2 separate regions of the Homo sapiens genome follow, and region 2 is linked to region 1. The links come from fine-mapping of genetic effects on gene expression. Tissue or cell type: whole blood. Region 1 holds a variant in brackets; the other region holds the start of a gene. All regions are shown on one strand. Distances are between the middles of the regions.

The links. PIP is the estimated chance that this variant, and not a neighbour inherited with it, causes the effect.
Region 2: it holds the start of PDIA5, and the variant in region 1 is fine-mapped to the expression of PDIA5 in whole blood (INTERVAL, PIP above 0.99).

What each region holds. Positions count from the first base shown.
Region 1 is chr3:123,119,275-123,127,378 of GRCh38, forward strand. PDIA5 (protein disulfide isomerase family A member 5) reads left to right here. Exons shown (of 17, transcript NM_006810.4): 9 at 4,792-4,883; 10 at 4,998-5,069. Among named protein-coding and RNA genes, the nearest start is that of MIR7110, 38 kb to the right of the region's middle. The variant G/A (reference allele first, on the strand shown) is at 4,135.
Region 2 is chr3:123,063,692-123,071,795 of GRCh38, forward strand. It overlaps PDIA5 (protein disulfide isomerase family A member 5), which reads left to right and starts at 3,334. Exons shown (of 17, transcript NM_006810.4): 1 at 3,334-3,515. The coding sequence starts at 3,474. RefSeq lists a silencer at 3,389-3,628.

The sequences.
Region 1 (8,104 bases):
TTCTTCTGCCTGGGCCCAGGTCTAGAAATATAAAAGTTACCCATTCCAGTTCCCTCAACATTACAGAAAAGTCAGGGGCGTTGTCTGCAAAGCTGGGCAAGTCAAGCTGTGACCAGGTGTTGGCTGCCTTGGCCTAAGACATCTGGGTTGTGTAAACTCATTTCTTTGTTTGTATATTTTCTTGCTTGGGGTTTGTTTTGTTCTATTTTCCCTTTCATTTCCTAGAAAAGCATCTTCTGGAAAGTTCTAGCCCTTTCCCAGCTACATAAAGAGGGAAGGGCCCTGGCCGCTGCACGCATCACCCACGCAGGAGGCCCCTAGAGGCTAGGGCTTACTCTGCAGGGGCAGCTCCCCAGAAACTGGGGACCTGGCTGGAGGGGTTGAGTGACCACAGGTGTCAATTGCTTTTTGTCTTCACACACAGAAAAGAGGTGGGACTAATAAATGGGCTGCTATTCCCCAGAAATCAAAGTTCACCCCCTCCTCGCTGCTGAAACACAGCTGGATTAGGGCCTTCTGTCACTTCTTCATCTCTGTCATCTTTGAGCCTTTTTGGCTGGGTCTGTCTCTGGCAAGGGTCAAAAATCTTCCTCCTCTACAGATTTTTTGGGAGGTGTTCAACCTGATTGACATCATTAGGAAGGAAGGCATGCCAGGTCAGGGATGCACAGCCTTTGCCATTTCCAAACTTACAGCTGCCTCTTTTGTGCTGTCATTGACGTCTGGTGACTCATCGCGTCTGTCCCATCTACTCCTGCTAATTGACATCCTCATTAGCAGCCACGCTGCCCCCATCTCAGAGCAGCCATCAGAATGAGCCCTGTCTCCATCTGCCTCTTCCCAGCCTTGCCAGTTATTGACATCTGCACTGAGCCTTTGAGCTTTGCCTAGTCTTTGGTGGACCTCGGCCATGATGGGCCAGTCTGGGTATAAACACCATGAAATAGAACCATCATGACGACAGATTTGTACAGACCAGGCTCTAGTGCTGGCTCTTGCTAACCAGCTGGGAGATCTTGGTCCAAGCTCCTTAGCCTTGGAGCCTCCATTTCTCCATCTGTAAAATGGAGATGATAATGCCAACCCTGCCCACACTGGGTTGTGGTGAGGAACAAATGGGCTGTGTGGAAGAAGCCCTGTACCCCACAGAGCACTCATAGACACAGATGACTGATCCCCTCTCTTCCCTACAGCTGCCCTGCACCACATTCCTTCCACCGGCTAGATGGGGGTGCTCCCAAGGTTCCGCTTTCCTGTTAACACATTGGAGCAAGGTTTTGTCTTATTACAGTCTACCTTCCAGTGACCACATCTCTGTCCATAGCTTCAACAAAACGTAGCTCCATGGAGCCCAAGTCCTTCCCCTAAGTGCCAGTGCCACGTGTCAGATGGCTTGCTTCACAGCTCCATCTGGATTTTTTCCCTTGTGTCTCAAATGCATGTCTGAAAATTCAGTATCTTTCCATCTGGCAGACTGTGAACTTTGCATTAAGTCCTTTCCCCAGGGGCCAGGCTCTTTCCCCACCCCCCACCTCCACCTCTCTTTACTGAGGCATCATCAGGCATCTTCCTCATGCACCCTTCATCCTCTCCCTGCCCACCAGCCCTGTCCAGTGGGCTATGCTAGCTGGTGGCCAAAGGCTGCTGACTTGTCTCCTGACCACAGCATTCCCTCATAGCTCGTCCTTTCTGCTTCGAGAGATACAACTGGTTTGAGGGTTGCTTTCTTACTTAGAAACCCTCGGGAGCTCTCCGTCACTTCCTGAATACAGTCCCGATTTCTTAGGTATTTCAAGCCTTTCCCAAAGTGATCCTGGCCAACTCACTCAGCCTTTTCTTTCATGTCTTCTCCTTTCTGTGTATCCTGCCTTCCAGTTAGATGGAAATGTGCTCCATTTCTTGGGCCACATCTTTCTTTGCCTTGCCTCCAGTTCCCCATCCCGGGACGTCTGTTGAAATCTTACTCTCCTCTGAGTGCAAGCTCACATGCAGCCCACGCTAAGAAGCTGCCGTGATGGTTCCTGGCAGCAGGGCTGAACACACAGAAGAGCATGTCACGCCAGCTGAGTGGCCCCAAGCATGCAGATGGCAGTGGGGAGCAGGGAGGCTGTGTTCTTATCTTCTCCACAGGCCGAGACCAGGTGTGTCACCTCATTTGACTTCACAAATTCTAACTCCAGAAAGTGTTTGTATGTAGTTTTTCAAAAATTTTTGCCTCATTAACTAATAGATGCCCCCAAAATGGCACAAAAGTGCTACAGAAACTTGGAGAATTAAGAGCTCACCCCAAGCGAAGGTGGTTTGCAAAGGCTGCCCAGAGACGTGAGGTTTGATTTGCCTTAAGGGATGGGTGAGTCTGGAGGGTCGCCAGGAGGCGGGGGATGGGCAGCCTCAGTAAGGGGACTGGAAGGCACCAAGTGGGGGCCAGGAGAGAACAGCGAGTGTTCCAGAAGTGTGGGCAGAAATAGAGCACCTCCTAGTCCTAGTAACAAAAATAGCTAATACATTTTGTGTTATTGATTATCTTGTATTATTTCATTGAATCTTCTCAACAACCACATGAGGTGGCTGCAGATGAGGAAAGTGAGACGCAGAGACAACTGTGACTCATTCAAGGAAATGCGCGACCCCATGGGGAGTTGGGACTCAAACCCAGGCATCCTGAGTCCATGCTTCCAGCCACTGCATGTTGCTGCTGCACTCAGCAAGATGTCTGAGAAGGCAGACAGTCCAACTTCCTTCCTGTGCAGAAATCTCAGACTGTCTTATTCCTGGGAGAATAAAAAATCTAGACCCTAACAGGTGTACAATGAAGAGTTTTGTAAGAAAGAAAGATTCAAAAATGAAATAGGTAACATATGGGCATTGAATGTGGAGCTGGATTTTAGCCTATATTCAATGGAATTGGAAGGTTTTGTGCAGGGAAGTGATGTAATGAGCGAGGAGGACGTGTAAGATTAATCTGTGGTGAATGTGCACTGACACTGGGGAGATCAATTAGGCAGAAAAAAAAAGGACTTTTAAAGAAGACAAATATTACTGGAACAGGCCGCTGGAGCAGTCTGGGAAATGAGCAGAATGACTTTTATAGAGCGTTCCAGGGCTTCAAGTAAATTCGAATTCAAATTTATTCTTCCTGTATTATTTGCTGCATCCTAAAATGGGCTAGGAAAAAAAAAACAGTGAATTTAGTGAGCATTTATTGTGTCCTTGCTGTATGTGAGGCCTTGTGCTAGGGACTTAAAACAATTGGAAAGATATCCAGGTGCCCCTAGGAATGGAGAGGCCAGAGGCACAGTGGCTCCCATCACCAGGAAGACTTGGTAGGAAGATGACAGTTACTGAGCTCCAGTTTTGTGCTAAAACCTCTCATCTCATTTAGTTCTCTAAAGAGCCCTTTGATGGTCACATCTTCCAGCAAGGGACCTCAGTGAGGGTGAGTGACTTGCCCAAGGTCACATGACTCATAAGTGGAAGCTGTCTTTGCAATCAATTTATTGTCCACTGAAACGGTTATTTATTTTCCTCTCTCTCTGTGTCCTTATGTATTATTCAGTAAAGTTCAGCTTCCTGGGTTTCTTCTCTCTGCTTCTGTAACTACTGCTGGCTTTTTTTACTTACTTTTCCCTCGCTTCTATGCCACTCTGCTTTGTGGAACAACCTTTGTGTGTCGGGCCATTCTAGCTGTGTTCTCTGGTAAGAACAGATTCAAAGTCCTGGCTGGGCATGCTGGCTCATGCCTGTAATTCCAGTGCTTTGGGAGGTTGAAGTGGGAGGATCGCTTGAGCCCAGGAGTTGGAAGCCAGCCTGGGCAACACAGCAAGACCTCATCTCTACCAAAAAGAAAAATATACTAGCCGGACATACTGCCACATGTCTGTGGTCCCAGCTAATCAGGAGGCTGACAGCGGAGGATTGCTTGAGCCCAGGAGTTAGAGGGTGCAGTGAGCTATGATCATGCCACTGCAGAGGGAGTTTTAGGGGATTCCTTATATGAGTCAGTCTTAGTATTTAGCTACATCGTCGGTTACCCAGCTACTAAAATACTCTTTCTGATTCAGGGATAGTGGACATGTGGACCCCTGGAGCCAGAATATGTTCAGAATTCTGAGATGATGATCCAGCCAGGCTGTG[G/A]GTAATGGTCACCAACAGGAGGAAACACTGGGGAGACACAGCACGGCCTGGAAGGAGGAGAGTTAGGCAGGTGCCTCGTTTCTCATGTTGTGTTATGAGAACCACACGGCCTCCCTGGCCACATATAAGCTGTGAGGTTTGGAAACGTCACACTCAAGCCTAGGTGAGCAAACCGTGAGGTATCCAGGAAGGTGTCTAAGGACGTTGTACAGAGCTGAATTGGTGTATGAAAGCCACTTATTTCCATAGCCTAGGAAAGAGTACAACCCGAGTTGACATGAACAGAGAAATAGGCGTAACACATCCTTGGCAGTGGCCCCTCTCTGAGAGTAATGTGAACTTGATGGCAAGGCCCGGCTTCTTCTGCAACCCTCAGAACGTTGGTTTTGCTCTGGGGTGGTTCTTCCTGCAGGGAGGCAGAGGGAGCAGGCGTGCGGAGTGCAGCACTCGGCCCAGCTGCCTGACTTCTCCAGCGCCAGGTCATGATTCCCGGCTGGCTTCGCTGGCCTTGTTTCTCAGCAGCCCTGATGCACATCAGTCTGTGGGGCTTTGTCCCATATGTCTTTCTGGTGGGACAGCAGCTGGACAGATGGCGTGTGGACTAGAGGGTGTCTGTGGGGCACAGGCTCCACACGGCTCTTCTCCGCTTCCTCCCAGGTGCTGGCCGGGATGAATGTCTACTCCTCTGAATTTGAAAACATCAAGGAGGAGTACAGCGTGCGCGGCTTCCCCACCATCTGCTATTTTGAGTACGTCCCCCACTTTCCTTCTAAAGCTCACCTCCCTCCCTGGTGATTGACCATAATCTCAGGGTGGCATTTGCATCCGTGACTGAGCCCACGTTGTTTCTCCACGTTTCACAGGAAAGGACGGTTCTTGTTCCAGTATGACAACTATGGGTCCACAGCTGAGGACATTGTGGAGTGGCTGAAGAAGTAAGTGGGGTGTGTGTGTGTCAGTGGGCGTGGACCCAGAGGGCGGGGCATCTGCCGGGCCTGAGGGTCGCAGGGCTCTGGCTGGAGGTTGGGGGAAAGAATGAGGAAGGGAATTGTGGTACTGCCTACACAGCTGTCTCTGGCTTGAGTCTAGGCCACTGTGGGGATTGTGGGAATTTAGGTTGCAGGAGCCATGAGGATTTGGTGTGACTTTGGCCTGTGATGATCAGACCTGCCTGGGTGTTGGGTGTGGAGTCTGTCTCCCCTACCTCCCGTCTCCACGGGTTGGAACTGGGGAGGGGCTGCCTAAGCCTGTCAGCTCTTCTGGAATAGTCAGGGCCTTTCTGAATTCTTCCCACATTTCACATCAAGTTTCTCCTCAACACATCTATCTGATGGATAGAGGTATTTCTCACCCAGGCTACCAGGTTTGAGAGAGGTTCCACTGCAGGTCTCTCTGAAAATAGAATTGTCAGTTGAACACTTATTTCAAACACAGCACTGTCTTAGGTGCTGTGAAGGTACTAAGAAATATTCTAATGCCTTAGGTTTGCTGAGTGCTTTACTGTTCAACCCCCACAGGCATTGCTTCATTGCAACCTGTGATCCCTGTTTTATAACATGATTAGATCCTTGTAATGCCAAACCCCACCACCCTGTTGGCTCCTGCCTCCTTACCTGGAGCCTCCACTGTGCTAGGCCTGCTGCTTTGTCCTGCCAGATCACCCCATTCCCACTTCTCACCAGCACTTCCACGACAGGCTCACGATGTCCCCTTCTGGAAGCCTCCCCAGGCCACCCTCGCTGAGCACGCACCCTACTCAGGCTGCGCTCTGTGTGTCACGAGTTTGGCACTTACCAGCCACTGCTGCTTCATGAGTATTTGTGCATATGTGCTGGAGTAACAACAGCCAACATCTTTTGGGCTCTCCTTTGTGGCTGACATTGTTCTAAGCACTTTACATGGATTCTCATTTAATCCTCACAACAGCACTGTAAGGAAGATGTTACCGTTCTCTTCATTTTATGAATGAGGTCCCTGAGGCACAGTAAAGGGGTGGTGCCGGTAAGCAGTAGCAGGGCCCTGATGGGTCCCCGCCACCAACCCAGCTCCCTGCAGCCCCGACAGTCCAACTTAGCCTCCTCAAGTTCTGCTCGGAGCCCCTCCCCTCAGCTGCCGGCACAGTGGACATTTATTGACATCATTACCTTAGGAACACAGTGTGCAAACCCCAGGGTTAAAGAATTAGTTATCCAAGATATGGAGGTTGAAAATGTGTATTTTCAAAATGGGAAAGAAGGGTGGGTTTTGTACCAGGAAAAAAATGCACATGAAACTAACTGTTAGATTTCTAAAGGTGGAGAGTCTCCATCTTCTGTTCTGCCTACTCTCGGGAGATAAGGCACAAGTGCTAGCACATGTTTGCATCATGTCTTTTATTTCTTGGAAGCATTCTCACATCTCTGTCCCCATCGGCTACCTCATTTCCAGCCCCTGCCTGGGAAGGCTGCTGCCCATTATCATGTGTTCATTGTCTTAACCTGGGCCTTTGCTTTCCTGTTTTCCTTTTTCATTTGATAATAAGCGTGTCCTCTCCTCTATCCAGACACATCTCATTCTGCTTTGGGAGAAGGTCTCAACAAATAGCAATCTCATTTGTCACTAGAGCATAAAATCTGTCTGCTTCCCTTCCCTTCTCTAACCTTTTCTGATTTCAAAACACCCTCATATCTTTTTTGGAAGGATAAGGTTTATGTGGTTTTTTTTAAGTATTCAGAATTACCTGCTAACCCTAGACAAAGGGAGCACATCAATGGTGTTTCTGAAACAGGCTATTATCTCCCCGCTGGAGCCTCCTACTCCATCCTCCCACCCCTCTCCTCTCGGCACACCCCATCCCGGCTCCCCCACCCGCATTGCTCCGGCTGGCCTGCACCCCACAGCTGCCTCCAGTCTCTGGTCCTGGGTACCCCATCCCCACTTCCTACTTCCCCCCATCCCCCGCTGTGGGAGAGAAGGAGCTCTTGTTAACGGCCTTATCCTCTGCAAGAGCTAGTAATGTCATTCTGCTACCAGCTGGCTTAATTTTTTAAAGTCTTTTCTGATTTCAGAGATACTCAACTAAGATAGGCTTATTATAGAAAAACCTAAAAGTGTGGTTAAACAAAAAGTCCTCCCCCACCCTATTACCCAAAGATAGCATATTGTTATTATTTCCCCTACATAGATCTAGCTCTGCATGTGGGTTTTCCCGGTCCCACATGGATTAAGCCTTTTCCAGTTTCCCCTCACATCCTTTTGGGCAGTAGTGACCTCATCTTTCCTGCTTCTCTAGGTTTCTCCATTGGCTCTTAGCTGCTCAGGGCTTCTGTGCAGCCAAGTATACAAAGATGAGGGTGAAGCCAGCCTAGCTAATTCTCCAAATGGCTCTCAAATGCCTAGGAGAGAAGACCTAGGTCCTGCCCTTCAATGCGTGACTCTGGTGGTTGGACCAGGGAAGGGTGGCACCAGGTGAGGCAGGGCAGGGAGTCAGCCCCTGGCATCTGAGTGTATGAGGGCTCTGGAGTAGATGTGTTGATCGTGGCACTGGTGTCTTTTGTGTTCCTAATGGCCACGTATCTCATTGGCCACTTGAAGCTGTCACTGGTGAGTTGGGCTAGCAGACAGGTGGAGGGGTACATAAGCAGTGATCCATTTTGGGCAGGGTCATTTTGGCCTGTGTAGCTTTATGCCAACCAGAAGTGAACTGAATTAGCAAACACCAAGTTTTCTGGACTCGTAATGCTTAGAGTTGCATCTTCTCATCTATGGCACATGCATCTCCCTTAGATGAGGTTCTGATTGTGTGACCCTCCCAGTCCTAGAGAGCCTGGAACAATTGCTCTCTCCAAACTGCAGAGCTCATGAAATCAGTCGCATGAAGGCAGATCAGAAGGGAACATACAAGTCATCAAATCTGCACCAGCAATTCTCCTTTCAATGTTTGCATTTCCTCACTCCCATTGGACTCATTCTGAGGTTCCCCATTCATGCT
Region 2 (8,104 bases), 56 kb before region 1:
ATGACAGAGGTTGTTTTTTATTATTATTATTATTCTGAAAGCTAGAAATCCACGATCAAGCTTTTGGCAGGGTTGATTTCTTCTGAGGGCCTCTCTCCTTGGCGTGTCACTGGCCATTCTGTCTTCTCTCTGTGTCCTCACATGGTCTTTCCTCTGTATATGTGTCCTACTGTCCTCTTTTTGTAAGGATACCAGCCATATGGGATTAGGGTCCACCACAATGACCTCATTTAACCTTAATTACCTCTTCAAAGGCTCTAAGTACGGTCATATTCTGATGTAGTAAGGGTTAGTTAGGACTTCAACATATGAATTTGGGGGGGACACAAGTCCATAACAGCTTCTGTGAATAAAGCTGCCATGAACATTTTGGCTCAGATTTTGTACATGTACAGTTGTCCAAAGTAGGTGAGCCAATTTACACTCCCACAGCAATGCGTGAGTGTTCCAGTAGCTCTGCATCCTCACCAACTGCTTCATTTGACAGATGAGAAACAGAGACCCACAGAGAGGGGTGCAAATCTCACTTTCCCATGTGCAGGTCATAAGTTCGAGGTTGCAGAGCAGAGCATGCCAAGGAAGCCCTGTCCCCAAACTGCTTTAGGAATTTCTGACACTTCCCAACACATTACTTAGCTCAATCATTCAGTCATTCATCAAAAAGAACAGTGAGAACCATCTGTGGCTCCGTCCTGTGCTAGGTCCTGGAAGCAAGGTGATGAACAGAGGGACAGGAAACTGACATTCAGGTTGGAGCAAGAGACAATGAACACAAGGACTCAGTAAGTCTTGTGGGTTTTGGTAGGTGCTGGGCAAAGAAGCAACAGAACCTAAGCAGAAGTTGAGATAGAGAAAAAGGAGCTTGGCAGTGGGGAGGGTAAACTCACCTGTAGATGGGCTGCTCTGAAGGGCATCTCTGAGAGGGGATAGATAGGAGAACCCTGAAGGATACAAAGGCGCCAGCCAGACAAAGGCCAAGGAAATTGCCAAGGCAAAGAGAATGGGAGGAGCACAAGCCCTGAGGCAGGAGCAGCTCTGGAGAGGGGAGGGGTGAGGAAATGATGGTCTGTGTAACTGGACCCAGTGGACAGGGGTTGTGGGAGGCAGGAGATGAGGTCTACCGGGCGGGCGAGGGCCTAGACCATGCAGGGCTTGCAGGTCTTGGGAAGAGTTTGGATTTTATTCTAAGGGTAATGGGAAACCACTGGAGGGTTTCAGGGGAGGGGCAAGCAAGATCCAACTGACATTAACATATGGATGGCATGGGGGAGAAGCAGGCACACTCTTTCAGAAACTGTTACCCTTCCCTAGGTGATAGTCACTTAGACTTGGGAGGTGGCAGGAGAGATATATTCTGGAGGTAAAATTGACAGGATGTGGTGAGGGGTTGGATGGGCCTGTTGTGAATAGGAAGCGAGTAATGGATAACTTCTAAGTTTTGAGCTTTGACTCTCCTGACAGAAGGCAAGGACCTTTCAGCTATAACTTACCAACCTCTGACTGTGCTGTTCTCTTGTTCATCTCACTACTGGATATCTTGAGCCTCAGGACATAGTAAGTGTTCAATAAACATTCTTGAATGTATGAACTGACTGCATGCAAGAATGCTTTAGCACAGCAGGGCCCAACCTTTTTGTCACCAGGGACCGGTTTTGTGGAAGACAAGTTTTCCACAGATGGTGGGGGGACAGGGGATGGTTTTGGGATGAAACTGTTCTATCTCGGATCATCAGGCATTAGATTCTCATAAGGCACCCACAACCTAGATTTCTTGAATGTGCAGTTCACAATAGAGTTCACACTCCTATGAGAATCTAATGCCACCACTGATCTGACAGGAGGCAGAGCTCAGGTGGTAATGCTCGCTGGCCCACAGCTTGCCTCCTGGTTCCTAACAGGCCACAGACTGTCCAGAGGCCCAGCGTTTGGGGACCCCTGCTTTAGCACAGGGAATGGGTTCAATAAAGAGTTTTTTTCTTTTGAAAATTTTTACTCAGGTAAAATTCACATAACATCAATTAACCATTTTAAAGTGTACAGTTTAGTGGCATTTAGTACCTTCACAATGTTGTGGAACCATCATCTCCATCTAGTTCCAAAATGTTTTATCACTCCCAAAGGAGTCCCTATACTCATTAAGCAGTCATTCCCCATTCCTTCCTCCCCACCCCCACTACTATGCTTTCTGTCTCTGTGGATTTACCTATTCTAAATATTTCATAAGATGTAATCACATCATATGTGACTTTTTGTGTCTGGCTTCTTTCATTAGCATACATTTCTGAGATTCATTCATTGTAGAATGTATTAGCATTTTATTCTCTCCCCCCCACCTTTTTTTTTTTTTTTTTTTTTGAGACAGGGTCTCACCCTGTGGCCTAGGCTGGGGTGCAGTGGCATGATCTTGGCTCACTGCAGTCTCCATATCCCAGGTTCAAGCAATCCTCCCGCCTTAGCCTCCCAAGTAGTTGGAACTACAGTCCCTTGCCACCACACCAGCTATTTTATTTTATTTTATTTTTATTTTTAGCAGAGATGAGGTCTTGCTATGTTGCCCAGGCTGGTTTCAAACTCCTAGTCTTACACGATTCTGCTGCCTCAGCTTTCCAAAGTGTTGGGATTACAGTCATGAGCTGCCCTGCTGGGCCACTTTATTCCTTTTAATGGCTAAATAACATTCCATTAGATGGATGTATCACACTTTGTTTACCCATTCATCCTTTGACAGACGTTAGAGTTGTTTCTACCTTTTGGTTATTGTAAATAGTGTTGCTGTGAACACTGGTGTACGTGCATTTGTCTGAATACCTGTTTTCAATTCTTTTGGGTATTAGCCTAAGGGTGGAATTGCTGGTCATATAGTAATCTATGTTTAACTTTTTGAGGAACCACCAGATTGTTTTCCAACAGCTCAATAATGTTTTACTGAAGTTAAATAGAATAAGCAGGAGGGAGTCTGGGAGGCAGGGATGAGGGCTTTTCCTGTCCTTCACAGGCAGCCCTGGACTCTGCCATTTACCGGCTGTGTGATCTGGATCAACGTACTTAAATTCCCTGCGCTGCCTCCTAATCCTCAAAGTGGAGAAAATAAAACCTAATTTCTGTGAGCTGCGTGAGATACTGTTTCTGAAGCTCCAGGCACAGAGTAAGCCCCCGCTCATTAATTGCCTTCCCTTACTCCCTGACCTTGCCTTTTCGCACTTCACTCGCTGCCACGTGGCCTCGGAGCCCAGTCCGCACCCGCAGCCCCCAGCTGAGCCAGGCTGCAGACTACAACTCCCAGCGAGCACTTCTTCCCGGCCGCCTCTCCCCAGCTGCTGCGCATGCTTTGGCAGACGTGGCACCGGGAACTCGGAGGCGGGGAGCGGCTGGGAAGTGGCCGTGGTGGTTGGCCGCGGTGGAGCTAGCAGGCGGGCGGGCGGGAGCGGGCGCCGGAGTGGAGAAAGGAGCCAGCGGTGGGCAGCGCTGCTGGGATGGCGCGGGCCGGGCCGGCGTGGCTGCTGCTGGCAATCTGGGTGAGACTGTGGGGCAGGGATCCGGGCCGGGCCAGCACGTGTGTCCCGCGTGCCCTTCTGCGCTCTCTGCTCCAGCCCTCTGCGGAACGTGCGGGGAGCTGCCCCGGGGCACCGGGATGAGGGCGTGCATGCCAGGCAGGCGGGCACTGGGTGCTACGCGGGAGACAGCGGGCGTCCCGGTGCCCTCGCCGCCAAGCGCTCCCGGACGCAGGGGCAGGAGGCAGCTGTGGGGCGCCGGGAGATCCCTGGCAGGGTGCTTACGCCACGGCCACAACTTTGCGGGGATGCAGGTCGGGGCACAGCCGGTCGGGCAGGACGCCGGCGGGCTGCGGGGTGAGCTCCGCTCCAGACTCCGAGCCCTGCACCTGTGTGAGTGCGGGGTGGGATGGGGGTGCTTACTACCTGCACTGCCGGAAACCTTGGTTTAGGGCCACCTTGTTCTTGGCTTCGGCCCCAGGCGTCTGGGAAACTGCGGGCCACCACCTGGGCCTCCGCCCACAGGCCAGGCTCGGTGGGCTGGGTGGGGTCGACGTAGCCCGCCCCGGCGGAGGAGCTGCTCCTACACCCAACTGAGGCGGGCTCGAGCCTCAGCCACTTTCTAGCTGTGTGACGCGGCGGTTCATTTAATGTATCTGAGCTAGTTTCCTCATGCATGATATAGAAAGGCAAAGCTACCCCCATAGGGTGGTTCTGAGAGTCGGATGAGGTCTCAGTGGAGGAAGCTGTGTAAACTGCAAAATCTTACAAAAGTGGAAAAGGAGTGGACTCCAAGAGTAGTTTGCTACACTTGGTGGGGGGGACTCCAGGCATCCCTGAGAGAGGTCGGAATGGGTGTGCCTGCCGGCCCAGGTCTGGGGTTTGGCCTTCGTTTCGCTGTGGGTGTGTGATGAGATATTGTGGCCTCCTTCCCCATCTTTTCCATAACTTATGCGCTCCCTTATTTTAGGACCATCCTGGTCCTTTTCCCCTGAAGTTCCAGGGAACTTCCTGTTCCTGGCACCCTCCCCCCAACCCAGATTTTCCCGTTCTTTTCCATTTGGGTGTGGCAAGGACACTGGGCAAATGGGAGGAGAAAAGTGTGGGTTGAGTTGCTTGAAACACTTCCATCTCCCAATACCCTGGCCTTTTGGATCACCAGTGAGGAGTGGCCTGGTACTCTCTGGTTGGAAGTGGGTGGGGAAAGAAGCCCCCTGTTCTCTTCGGTCTGTGTTCTCCCTCTTGGGGAGAACCAGGCTGGAGTGGGGCAGTGTCACTTAATTGCGTCTGGGTTTGTTGAATGCTGGTTTGCCATCAGTTCCCTGGAGCCAGTTGGTCTGGGCGGGTCTCTGGGCCAGGAGGAGGGAGCTATCTCCTGAAACGCCCCCCATCGGTCTTTGCACTTGGGCTGAGTAGGAGGTCCTGCTTTCCTCCCTTTCCCCTCCCTTTTGTGAAAACAAACGGCTTGAGAATCTGAAATTTCATTCGGCAGACATTTATTTGTCAATCACATTGTTTGGATTGATATTTTGCCCTCCACTGGGTTAGATTTTGGGCGGAGAGCAAAACACACATTGTACCTGCCGTCTGGTGTTGCCCTGGATTGGGCAAAGGAGTCAGTCCTGTGAGCAAATAATGACAGAACTGCAAGTGCTGTGACCTTAAGTACTAGTATCCTTCACTGAACCGGAGCCATACGTTGATTTAAAGGGAGGTCAGCCATGGCTTTCCTGAGGTGGTAGGGTTGAACAGAGTCTGAAAGATGTGTGGTAGTTAGCTAGGCAGTGGAGGGCTGCAGGTCCCCTTCACCAGGAGGTGCGGAAGAGCAGGTAGGTTTGCTGAAAGCACTAGAACCTGGGAGTCCTGAGCAAGCAATTTCTATCTTCTCCTTTCCCTAAGCCCTAGAGTTGGCTTAGCGGGTAGGAGGTGGAGGGAGCATGCCAACAGGAGCAGTGGTGAGTGATTGCTGGACAGCGCGTTGGGTCTTTGTAAATTTAAATGCTGTATCTATCTGATAAGTGCTCCCCAGGTTCCTGGAAGCCGGTTGGGTTTCTTTGTTCACTCAATATTTACTGAGGGCTGATATGTGCACAGGACTGGGCTGTGACCTGAAGGGTATAAAGGCATCTGCAGGGATTCGTGTACAGGGATATACACCCACCACATTTTTTACAATAGCAAAATGTGGAAATGGGTTAAATGCTCAATAATAGTGGCATGGTTAAATAATATCTGGCCTTGTCCATATCATGGAAAGTGATATTTATCTTTTTCAGTTTGGCCTGCTATAAGAAATATCCCATAGACTGGTGGTGTAGAACAATTGAAATGTATTTTTCACAGTTCTGCAGACCAAAAGTCCGAAATCAGGGTGCCAGCATGGTTGAATTCTAGTGAGGACCCTCCTCCAGAAGACTCTTGACTTCTCACTGTATTCTCATATGATAGAAAGAAGACTAGACAGTTCTCTTGGGTCCCTTTTTCAAGGGCACTAATCCTATTCATGAGCGATCCACCCTCATGACCTAATTACGTACCAAGGGCCCCACCTCCTAACACCACCACTTTGGGGGTTAGGATTTTAACATATGAATTTTCAGGGGAATGACAGAAATACTCAGTCCTGGCCGGGCACAGTTGCTCACACCTGTAATCCCAGCAGTTTGGGAGGCTGAGGCGGGTGGATCACCTGAGGTCAGGAGTTCGAGACCAGCCTGGCCAACATGGTGAAACCCCGTCTCTACTAAAAATACAAAAATTAGCCAAGCATGGTAGCGGGCGCCTGTAGTCCCAGCTACTCAGAAGGCTGAGGCAGGAGAATCGCTTGAACCCAGGAGGCAGAGGGTGCAGTGGGCTGAGATCGCGCCACTGCACTCCAGCCTGGGGGATGGAGCAAGACTCCATCTCAAAAAAAAAAAAAAAGAAGAAGAAGAAGAAGAAATATTCAGTCCATTGCAATGTTTATAAAGAATATTTTTATTTACCAGAATATTATGTTTATTATGAAAACATTTTATGATGTTTATGAAGAATATCTAAGGATGTGGAAAAATGCCCAAGTGTGATAAGTAAGGGAAAAGCAGGATGTAAAACCAAATCTGAGGGTGGCTGAAGTTACATGTATGAAGAATTAGTGCATCAAAATGTTAACAGTCATTGTTCTGGAAGGTGGAGTTGTGATGACTTCTGCTTCTTTGCTTATGCTTTTCTGTGGATTCCAAGTTTTTCACATGAATATGTATTAGTTTATAATCAGAAAAGTTAATAAAGATTTTTTAAAATGTTGCTTTGGGAACCCTTAGCCTTCCAAAAGAATACTGGGGAGGAAGGTGTCACTGTCAAACACGTGGGACAGGTTAGTTCCAAGAGCTTCCAGGCTGGGTGTCTGTGCCCTCAGAGGCTATGGGTGGCGGTGCCCTCCCTGCCAAGTGCTCCTGGACACAGGGGCAGGAGGTAGCCCTAGGGCACAGGGCGATCCCTGCCGAGCCATGCTGCCCTGCTCCCATCCCTGCGCTGACTGCCTGCTTTCCTGCTGTCCAGCTCAGCTCATCCCTGCAGCTGACTCTTCTCTAGGGCCGTCCATGCTGATTGTCCTGTTGGCTCCATCCAGCCTGTAGGATGGAGAAACGTCGAGCTGGAGTGAACTCTAGGTCTCCTAGCTCAGTGGTTCTCAAGCATTGGGCCAAGGACTGAAGCTGGGCTGGGATAGAGTTTTCTGGTCTGCAGTCAAACTGGAAAAAAAAAATGGTGTATTTTTTTGTTTGTTTGTTTTTCATGAATGCAAATGTTTTCAGTTTAAAAAGTTGTCAATTTTTCTGACATGACGATATTTTGAGGGGGAGGGGGTTACAGCATCCCTTTGAAAAATGAGGCTGGTTGTAGTATATTGTGATTTCTTTTTAAAAGCCCTTTCTTGATAAAATTTATTTTTAATAATATAAAATCCATTTTATATTTAAAAATATATATATTCTGCTGATCTGTGAGATTCAGAACTGATCTAACTCAGCCTTCTCCTTTTATAGGAGAATAGCGAGGCTTAGGGAGGGAAGGGACTCACTCAAGGCCACCCAGTTAGTGAAGGCAGAGCTGGGAGAAGAGCCAGATCTGCTGAATGTAAATCGGGTTCTTCCCACTCATCCATCTCCCGCCTGCTTCTCTGCCTCTGCCCCTGATGGTCGCTTGAAGCTCAGACCCTGGAGGACAGTGGGTGGAGGTGCAGGAGGCAGATGTTTGTTCCTGGCATCTCCTGTAGAGCTTTTAAGGTACACTTATTTAGGTTCTGTACTTCTCTGGGACGATTATATATTTAATAGGCTTTTGTGGGTTGGCCTGAGGACTGAATTGCCATTTAAAATGCTGTTTGGAACCTGTAGTGCACATTTCCCACAGAAATAAACACATTACAGCGGAAGTCTTAAAACAGACCCGGCATATAAGGTGGAAGTGTGGCTGAGTGCCATAAGAGTGGCAGCCCCTGTGTGCTGGGGATCCAGGACGAGGCCAAGCAGTGGGACACCGAGTGATCAGAGAAGGCCCCAGGAAAGAGCAAGGTGTGGACTGGCCTCACAAGGAGGGCAGACTTGGAGCTCTGTGACAGCAGGGAGCCCCCT